Linked DNA regions of Homo sapiens. The protein of the gene in region 2 purifies or fractionates together with the protein of the main gene of each other region. This does not show direct contact. Each region holds a gene or a part of one and is shown on either strand. Other genes may lie near its edges.

Region 1 (3,818 bases), on a different chromosome or scaffold from region 2:
TTGCCTTACTAAAGACGGAACAAAGCATCATCAGAGTCCACAACAGATAGGGCACTTTGGAAAATTTAACACTTCAGCTGCTGTTTTGACATTTTTAAGTGTATCCTTAAGGAACATAAAATTATATTACAGAAAGATAGACTGCATCCGTAAACACAGATACAAGGAACAGAAATACATATGACCACCTACAGCTACAGAAAAGGGATGCCCTGTTTCTACCACAATCTTCAGAAACTCACGAACACGTACACAACACGTACACAGAGGGTCCACCTTAGACTCCATTGTTTAAAAGTTATTACTGCAATAATTATAGTGCCTTATATCTTTATATTTATAGATTTTTTTTTTTGGAGACAGAATTTTGCTCTTGTTGCCCAGGCTGGAGTACAGTGGTGTGATCTCGGCTCACTGCTGCAACCTCCGCCTCCCGGTTCAAGCAATTCTCCTGCCTCAGCCTCCCAAGTAGCTGGGATTATAGGCATGCGCCCAGCTAGTTTTTGTATTTTTAGTAGAGACAGGGTCTCACCATGTTAGTCAGGCTGGTCTTGAACTCCTGACCTCAATCCACCTGCCTCGGCCTCCCAAAGTGCTCAGATTACAGGTGTGAGCCACCACGCCCGGCCGATGCATTCTCTTTTTGTAATAGAATTTCATGTTCCTTAACAATACACTTAAAGAAATGTATATACCTCACTATATTAATTTCCTCTATAACACAGTTCTATGCACAGATTCCAAAGAGATGACATTTCATCACTACACATAAATTATGAGAGAGGCAAGGAACACTAAGGTTAAGGAACAGCTACTGAAATTTCAGTGACAAGAACCAGGTACAAAGGGCAACAACAGTTGCACAGCACTGTTCAGATTTAAAAAAGCAATGAGATGTGTACCTTTTTGTACATCTATAAAATCTCATAAGGAAATTAGTTATGTCATAAATAATAATTAAAATCACTGACATATCTTTCAGAAAAAGAGACAAATGTGAAATGATCATCTTTAGAGAAAACTCCACCAGGACTTGGTGCATTCATTTGTTCATTCTCCACTGATACTGAGTGCACCTGTCAGGCACTGAGCAGGGTGCTACAGTTTGTGTGAGATATACCCTGTTCATGGAGTATAAGTTGCCTGTCTTAGGAAGATTCTATTTAAATTTTAAATATAGAGCCAGGCACAGTGGCACATGCATACAGTCCCAGCTACTGAGGATGAAGCAAGAGGATTGCTTGAGCCCAGGAGTTTAAGCCCAACCTGGGCAACACAGCAAGACGTATTTTTAAAAAATAATAATAATACAATAAAAAATAAATACAATTTAAAATACATGTAACATTAACAACAGCAATTTTACTAGAAGACTTTTTCTCATAAATCCCTCTAACACATGGGAGTACTAGAAGATCAGACTAGTTTAGAAAAGTTTCTCAGAACTTATTAAGTATAGAGCATTGCACTCAATAATGTGGGGAATATGGCATAAAATAAGAGACATGCTGCCTGCAGAAAAATTTTCAAGGAAGAAAAATTTCAGGAAAGAAAGGGTCAACACAAATATACAGGAAGAGCAAAGATGAAGACATTTTCAAGTAGCCACGTCCTCCATTACGAAACCACATGATATTTTCTGTACAGAATATTAAGTTTTATGATAATAAATAATACAAACCTGACTTTTTCCTTATGACACTTTGCCAGTGCTTTGCAGAGATTCGGATCAGGACAGAGATCAAGTGGCGATTGACCCTTCTTATTTCGAATGCTCAGGTCAGCACCATTGGCTGCCAAGAAACAGGCAATAGATGCTGCACTCTTCTTCTCTGCCCCCTGGGTACCAAGTCCCATTATTAACTGCAATAAAATAAAGAGTCATGATTTTCCCTCTAGGAATCTGCCATCAATTCTTGTCATCATATATATGTATGTGTGTGTGGTGGACACTTATGAGTTCTAGTCCTAATGTTCCCTCCCCACCACTCTACCCCTGGTTTTCTCAAGCATACACACAAGTATGCTTTCTCCAGTTGTAGAGGTGGACCTACATTCTCCAGCTGCAGAGGTGGACCAAACATGGCCCAAACCAGTCAGATACCTCTACCTTACCTATATGGCTAGAACCGGGATGGACACATAACACAAATCAAGTCAATTAAGCCCAACAGAACTCAAAAGTGGAACTTCTGATTGAGATACTAAAGAAACAGTACTCTCTTTCCTAATTAATTTGGCTCTGGAGCAGCTAGCAACCAACTTGAAACAATGACAGGAGAGACAACTGAGAAAAGAACCAATGACTAGGAATTGAGCCAAGATACGGAGAATGAGACAAATTAGGTTCTGATAATATTATCTGAGATTCTTCTCATCATCTTATGTGAAAATAGTCACAATAACTGTTAACATTTATTGAGTGTCTAAAATGGATCAAGTATTATTTTACACACTTTCCATGATCTTTACAACAACCTTATCGAGGTAAGTGCTCTCCTCTTCCCATTTTAAAATGAGAAAAAAAGAGGCACACCGAGCTAAGAGAACTTACCCATGGTCATAAATAAGGCAGAGGTCTCAAACACTTTGGTCTCAGAACCTTTTTACCCTCTAAAAAATGATTTTAAAATTCTTATGGAAATGTGAAGGACTTAGAATAGTCAAATAACTTCGAAAAAACAAGAAAACTGGAGGACTGACACTACCTGACTTCAACACGTATTATGTAGACAGTAATTAAGACTGGGGGCTGGTATCAAATAGCTAAAAACATAGACCAACAGAACAGAATACATGATCCAGAAAGAGACCTTCACATAAACAATTAACTGATTTTGGATAAAAGTATACTGGCAATTCAGTAGAAAAAGAAAGTCTTTTCAGCCGAGTGTGGTGGCTCATGCCTGTAATCCCAGGACTTTGGGAGGCTGAAGCAGACGGATCATGAGGTCAGGAGTTCGGGACCAGTCTGGCCAACATAGTGAAACCTTGTCTCTACTAAAAATACAAAAAATTAGCCAGGTGTGGTGGTGTGCACCTGCAATGCCAGCTACTTGGGAGGCTGAGGCAGGAGAATCGCGTGACCCCAGGAGGCAGAGGTTGCAGTGTGCCAAGATCACACCATTGCACTCCAGCCCAGGCAACAGTGCAAGACTCTGTCTCAAAAAAAAGAAAAAAGAAAAGAAACAAAGTCTTTTCAACTAATGGCACTGGAACAACTGGATATCCACAAGTAAATAAACCTGGATCCATATGTCACACAATATATACAAATTAACTCAAAAAGAATCATAGACCTAAACATAACAGCTAAAACTTTATAAACTTCTAGTACAAAACATAAAAGAAAACCTTAGCGATCTTGGGTTTGGCAAAGATATCTCAGACAGAACACACACAAAAAACACAAATGATGAAAGAAAAACTTGATAAATTAGACTTCCTCAAAATTAAAAAATTTGACTCTTCCAAATCACTATTAGAAGAATGAAAAGGGCTGGGTGTGGTGGCTCATGCCTGTAATCCCAGCACTTTGGGAGGCTGAGGCAGGCAGATCACGAGGTCAGGAGATCAAGACCACCCTGGCTAAGGTGAAACCCCGTCTCCACTAAAAACAATACAAAAAATTAGCTGGGCGTGGTGGCATGCACCTGTAGTCCCAGCTACTTGGGAGGCTGAGGCAGGAGAATTACTTGAACCCAGGAGGCGGAGGTTGCAGTGAGCCAAGATTGTGCCACTGCACTCCAGCCTGGGCGACAGAGCGAGACTCCATCTCAAAAAAAAAAAAGAATGAAAAGACAAATCTCCTACCAACT
Region 2 (3,818 bases):
ATACAAAAAAAAAAAAAAAAAAAATTAGCCAGGTGTGGCAGTGCACACCTGTAATCCCAGCTACTTGGGTGGCTGAGGCATGAGAATTGCTTGAAGACAGGAGGCAGAGGTTGCAGTGAGCAGAGATTGCGCCACCGCACTCCAGCTTGGGTGACAGAGTGAGACTGTTTCCAAAAAAACCCAAAAACCAAAAACAAAAACACTGTGACGAATGGCACCTTCACCCATCACTGCCAGGCCTTTCCATGTGGTTCTCTCCCTGGGTCACCCTCTTCCTGCTTCTTGCCTGGAGAACAGCCAGGAGGTATTAACGTAAATATCACCTCCCCAACGCTCCTTCCAAAAACAGATGCCAGGGCCATCCTAATTAAATCAGAATGGCACTGGGAGGGTCCTGGGCACCCTTTTCTTTCTTTCTTTCTTTCTTTCTTTTTTTAAATTGACATATAACCCAAAGTACGCTGGTAAATGTCTAACAACCAACTCTCCAAAGAAAGAAGCCCTGATCTGGCTGGATGTGGTGGCTCACGCCTGTAATCCCAGTACTTTGGGAAGCCGAGGCGGGCAGATCACCTGAGGTCAGGAGTTCGAGACCAGCCTGGCCAACAAAGTAAAACCCCATCTCTACTAAAAATACAAAGATTAGCCAGGTGTGGTGGCCCACACCTATAATCTCAGCTACTCAGGAAGCTGAGGCAGGAGAATCGCTTGAACCCAGGAGGTGGAGGCTGTAGTGAGCCAAGATTGTGCCACTGCACTCCAGCCTGGGCGACAACAGCTAAGCTGTCTCAAAAAAAAAAGAAGCCCTGATCTGCAGTGTTTACCAATTTCTTTGGTGTAAATACTCACCACAGCTACTTCAAGCTATCAATATGATATCATTACAGAACTGGGAAGGGATGTGTTCCCAAATGTAACGTGTGAGCTGGCTCCTGCACACTCTGGGTATAACTTAAATACTGTAAGCCAGGCGCGGTGGCTCACGCCTGTAATCCCAGCACTTTGGGAGGCCAAGGTGGGTGGATCACGAGGTCAGGAGATCAAGACCATCCTGGCTAACATGGTGAAACCCCATTTCTACTAAAAATACAAAAGGGCAGGCCTGATACTACCCTCTGGCTTCCGTTTTCTCCTCTTTTTGCCTCACCGTGCTGTCAGCTCCAGAACATGCCCTTGGGAATGAGCAGCCTCCCATCTCCACATTCTGGCCCCTGGAGTCCCTGCACTTCCTTCTGATCAGGGAAGTGATTCAAGGTGGGACATGATCCCCTTTGAACATCGGGACCTGAGGCTGAGGGCATTAAAAGAGTCACCCTCTCTCATGCCCTGCTGCAAGAAAACAGCCCCTGATTTATCAAATGCCTTTTCCTGCCCCTCCGAAGAACTCAGCAGTACGGCATTTGTTTGAGAAATCCCCCCTGTACAGGTTTTCAGCGACTCAGAATGCTCTACTGCCTTCATTTTGAGAAAAGACTGAAATACCCTCCTGCTGTATCCCCAGCTCTGGTGGGGTCTGGACTCATGTTGGTCTCCTTGGAGTTGTGTAGTGTACCACCTGAACAACTGGGTGGCTGCAGCAGAGACCACTGTGTTCTGCATGTCACATCCTCTCCAATGACACCAGAGGTCACTGCAGAAAGTTCCCCATAAACTAATGGCATCTGCATTAGTCTGCATCCCGGGAGCAGTTCTCAGCCAGCGAGGGATGGGAGCTGGTGAGTGACTATCCCAGCACCGCCAGCCTCGGCGGAGCAACTCTCAGCAGAGCAACTCTCAGTGTGTTACGCACGGCCTCCTGGGGCACAGTGGGAGTGCATGCCAGCTGCCTGAAGTGGTCACCTGCTTGCTTGCTTTCTTATTTATTTATTTATTTATTTTTGAGAAGGAGTCTCACTCTGTTGCACAGGCTGGAGTGCAGTGGTGTGATCTTGGCTCACTGCAACCTCTGCCTCCCAGGTTCAAGCTATTCTCCCGCCTCAGCCTCCTGAGTAGCTGAGTACAGTCATGTACCACCATGCCCGGCTAATTTTTATATTTTTTTAGTAGAGACGGGGTTTCACTATGTTGGCCAGGCTGGTCTCCAACTCCTAACCTCAAGTGATCTGCCCGCCTTGGCCTTCCAAACTGCTGGGATTACAGGTGTGAGCTACTGCGCCCAGCCTCACCTGCTTATTAATTCATACTTCACTGATGTCCTCCCTTCCCTGTCCCCCAGTGTTTCCTGGGACCACCTTCCTAGGAAGCCACTTCCACCCAAATCCTGGTCTTGGAGTTTCCTTTTGGAGGCTCCAAAGCCAGGTCGTGGCCCTGCCCTGCCACCTCTTCCGGTCACTTGCTACCCCACCACTCGGTTTTATTGCTCTCACGGTTTTTCTTACCCTCTGACATGATCTTGCACATTTACTTGTACATGATCTCTTCCTGGTAGAATGGAAGCCCCAAGAGAGCAGGGAATTTGTGATCTTGCTCGCTCTCCAGCACTGAAATTGTGTCAAGCACACAGCAGGCGCTCAAGAAAAACAGATGCAATGGCTCATGCCTGTAACCTCAGCATTCTGGGAGGTCCAAATGGGAAGACTGCTTAAGCCCAGGAGTTTGAGACTAGCCTGGGTAACACAGCAAGATCCTGTCTTTACAAAAAAATTTTAAATATTAGCCATGAGTGGTGGCATGTGCCTGTGGTCCTAGCTACTCGGGAGGCTGAGGTGGGAGGACGGCTTGAGCCCAGGAGTTTGAGGCTGCAGTGAGCTATGACTGCACCACTGTATTGCCGCACAACCTAAGTGACAGGGTGAGACCCTGTCTCAAAAAAATAAAATAAAACCATGCAAATCATGGGCAAAAGCCTGTGTTCTCAAAGCCAAGACTAGACAGGATAAACCTTACTGTCAACCCTTGTCCCCAACACACGGGCACATATTCACACCTCCATGTGCACACACGTACACACAGTCACATGTATGTGTACAGTGCACACATGCATTTGCATACCCATGTGCACACATTCACACACACACACCAGTGTGTCATACCTCTCCAGTGGTGAGAAATCTTCAGCATAAAACATCTGTCCCTAAAGCCAAGCAGCTCTAACAGCCTTGCAGTTGCGGTGCTGATTCAGTGCTTGCTTTTTCAGCAGCATCCCTGGCTTCTGGGCCCATGAATCAATGTGCCCAGGGGAACTGGCAAACACACCATGAGGTCTGCCCAGTAAACAGCCACTCCACCTCTCTGGCCTGGTCAGTTCTTGGTGACTTTGCCCATGATGGGGGTGGCAGTTTGCCCCTCCCAAGCCCTCTGGGTGGCGGTGGTTCAGCAACTGACCTGTTGATGAACTCTTCATAGCAGGAGTAGATGGCAGCCAGGCACACGGCCACCAGGTTGGGCAGGACCCGGGGGTGGGGGCAGTGCCCTGTGGGGCCGTGCATGCTGGAAAAAAGCAGAGGGCTGGGGTGAGAAGCCTGCAGGAGTGGGGCCCATGGACAGGGTAAGGGGGGAAAGGGAGGGCGTTGCTCAGGCACGGGGCTGCCCGCTCTGCCAGCGCCACTTGGGGGGCTCTGAGAGCCTTCACTGTGCAATTGGTGGCACCAGGATTTGGGCCCCGGCTGTGCCACGTGCAGGCAGCAGAAGGCAAAGCTCCTGGCTGTGGACTCCGGATCCAGGGTTCCCGGGTTCAAACCCCTGAGTGGCCTTGGAAACCTCCTAAACTCTCCACCCTGTTTCTGCAGCGATAAAATGAGGATAGCAGCCCCCTCCTCAGTTGGGGTACAGTTAGGACCAAATTTTCTAATTCACAGAGAGACCTAGCAAATGGTGGC

What was found.
Region 1: the proteins of CMIP (region 2) and MIB1 purify together in Homo sapiens (affinity purification with western blotting; one study listed by BioGRID). This does not show direct contact.

What each region holds. Positions count from the first base shown.
Region 1 is NC_000018.10:21,844,989-21,848,806, reverse strand, and holds part of MIB1 (E3 ubiquitin-protein ligase MIB1), read right to left. Parts: intron 1,864-3,818; coding exon 1,682-1,863; intron 1-1,681. UniProt on the Homo sapiens protein: E3 ubiquitin-protein ligase that mediates ubiquitination of Delta receptors, which act as ligands of Notch proteins.
Region 2 is NC_000016.10:81,671,577-81,675,394, reverse strand, and holds part of CMIP (C-Maf-inducing protein), read right to left. Parts: intron 3,430-3,818; coding exon 3,325-3,429; intron 1-3,324. UniProt on the Homo sapiens protein: Plays a role in T-cell signaling pathway. Isoform 2 may play a role in T-helper 2 (Th2) signaling pathway and seems to represent the first proximal signaling protein that links T-cell receptor-mediated signal to the activation of c-Maf Th2 specific factor.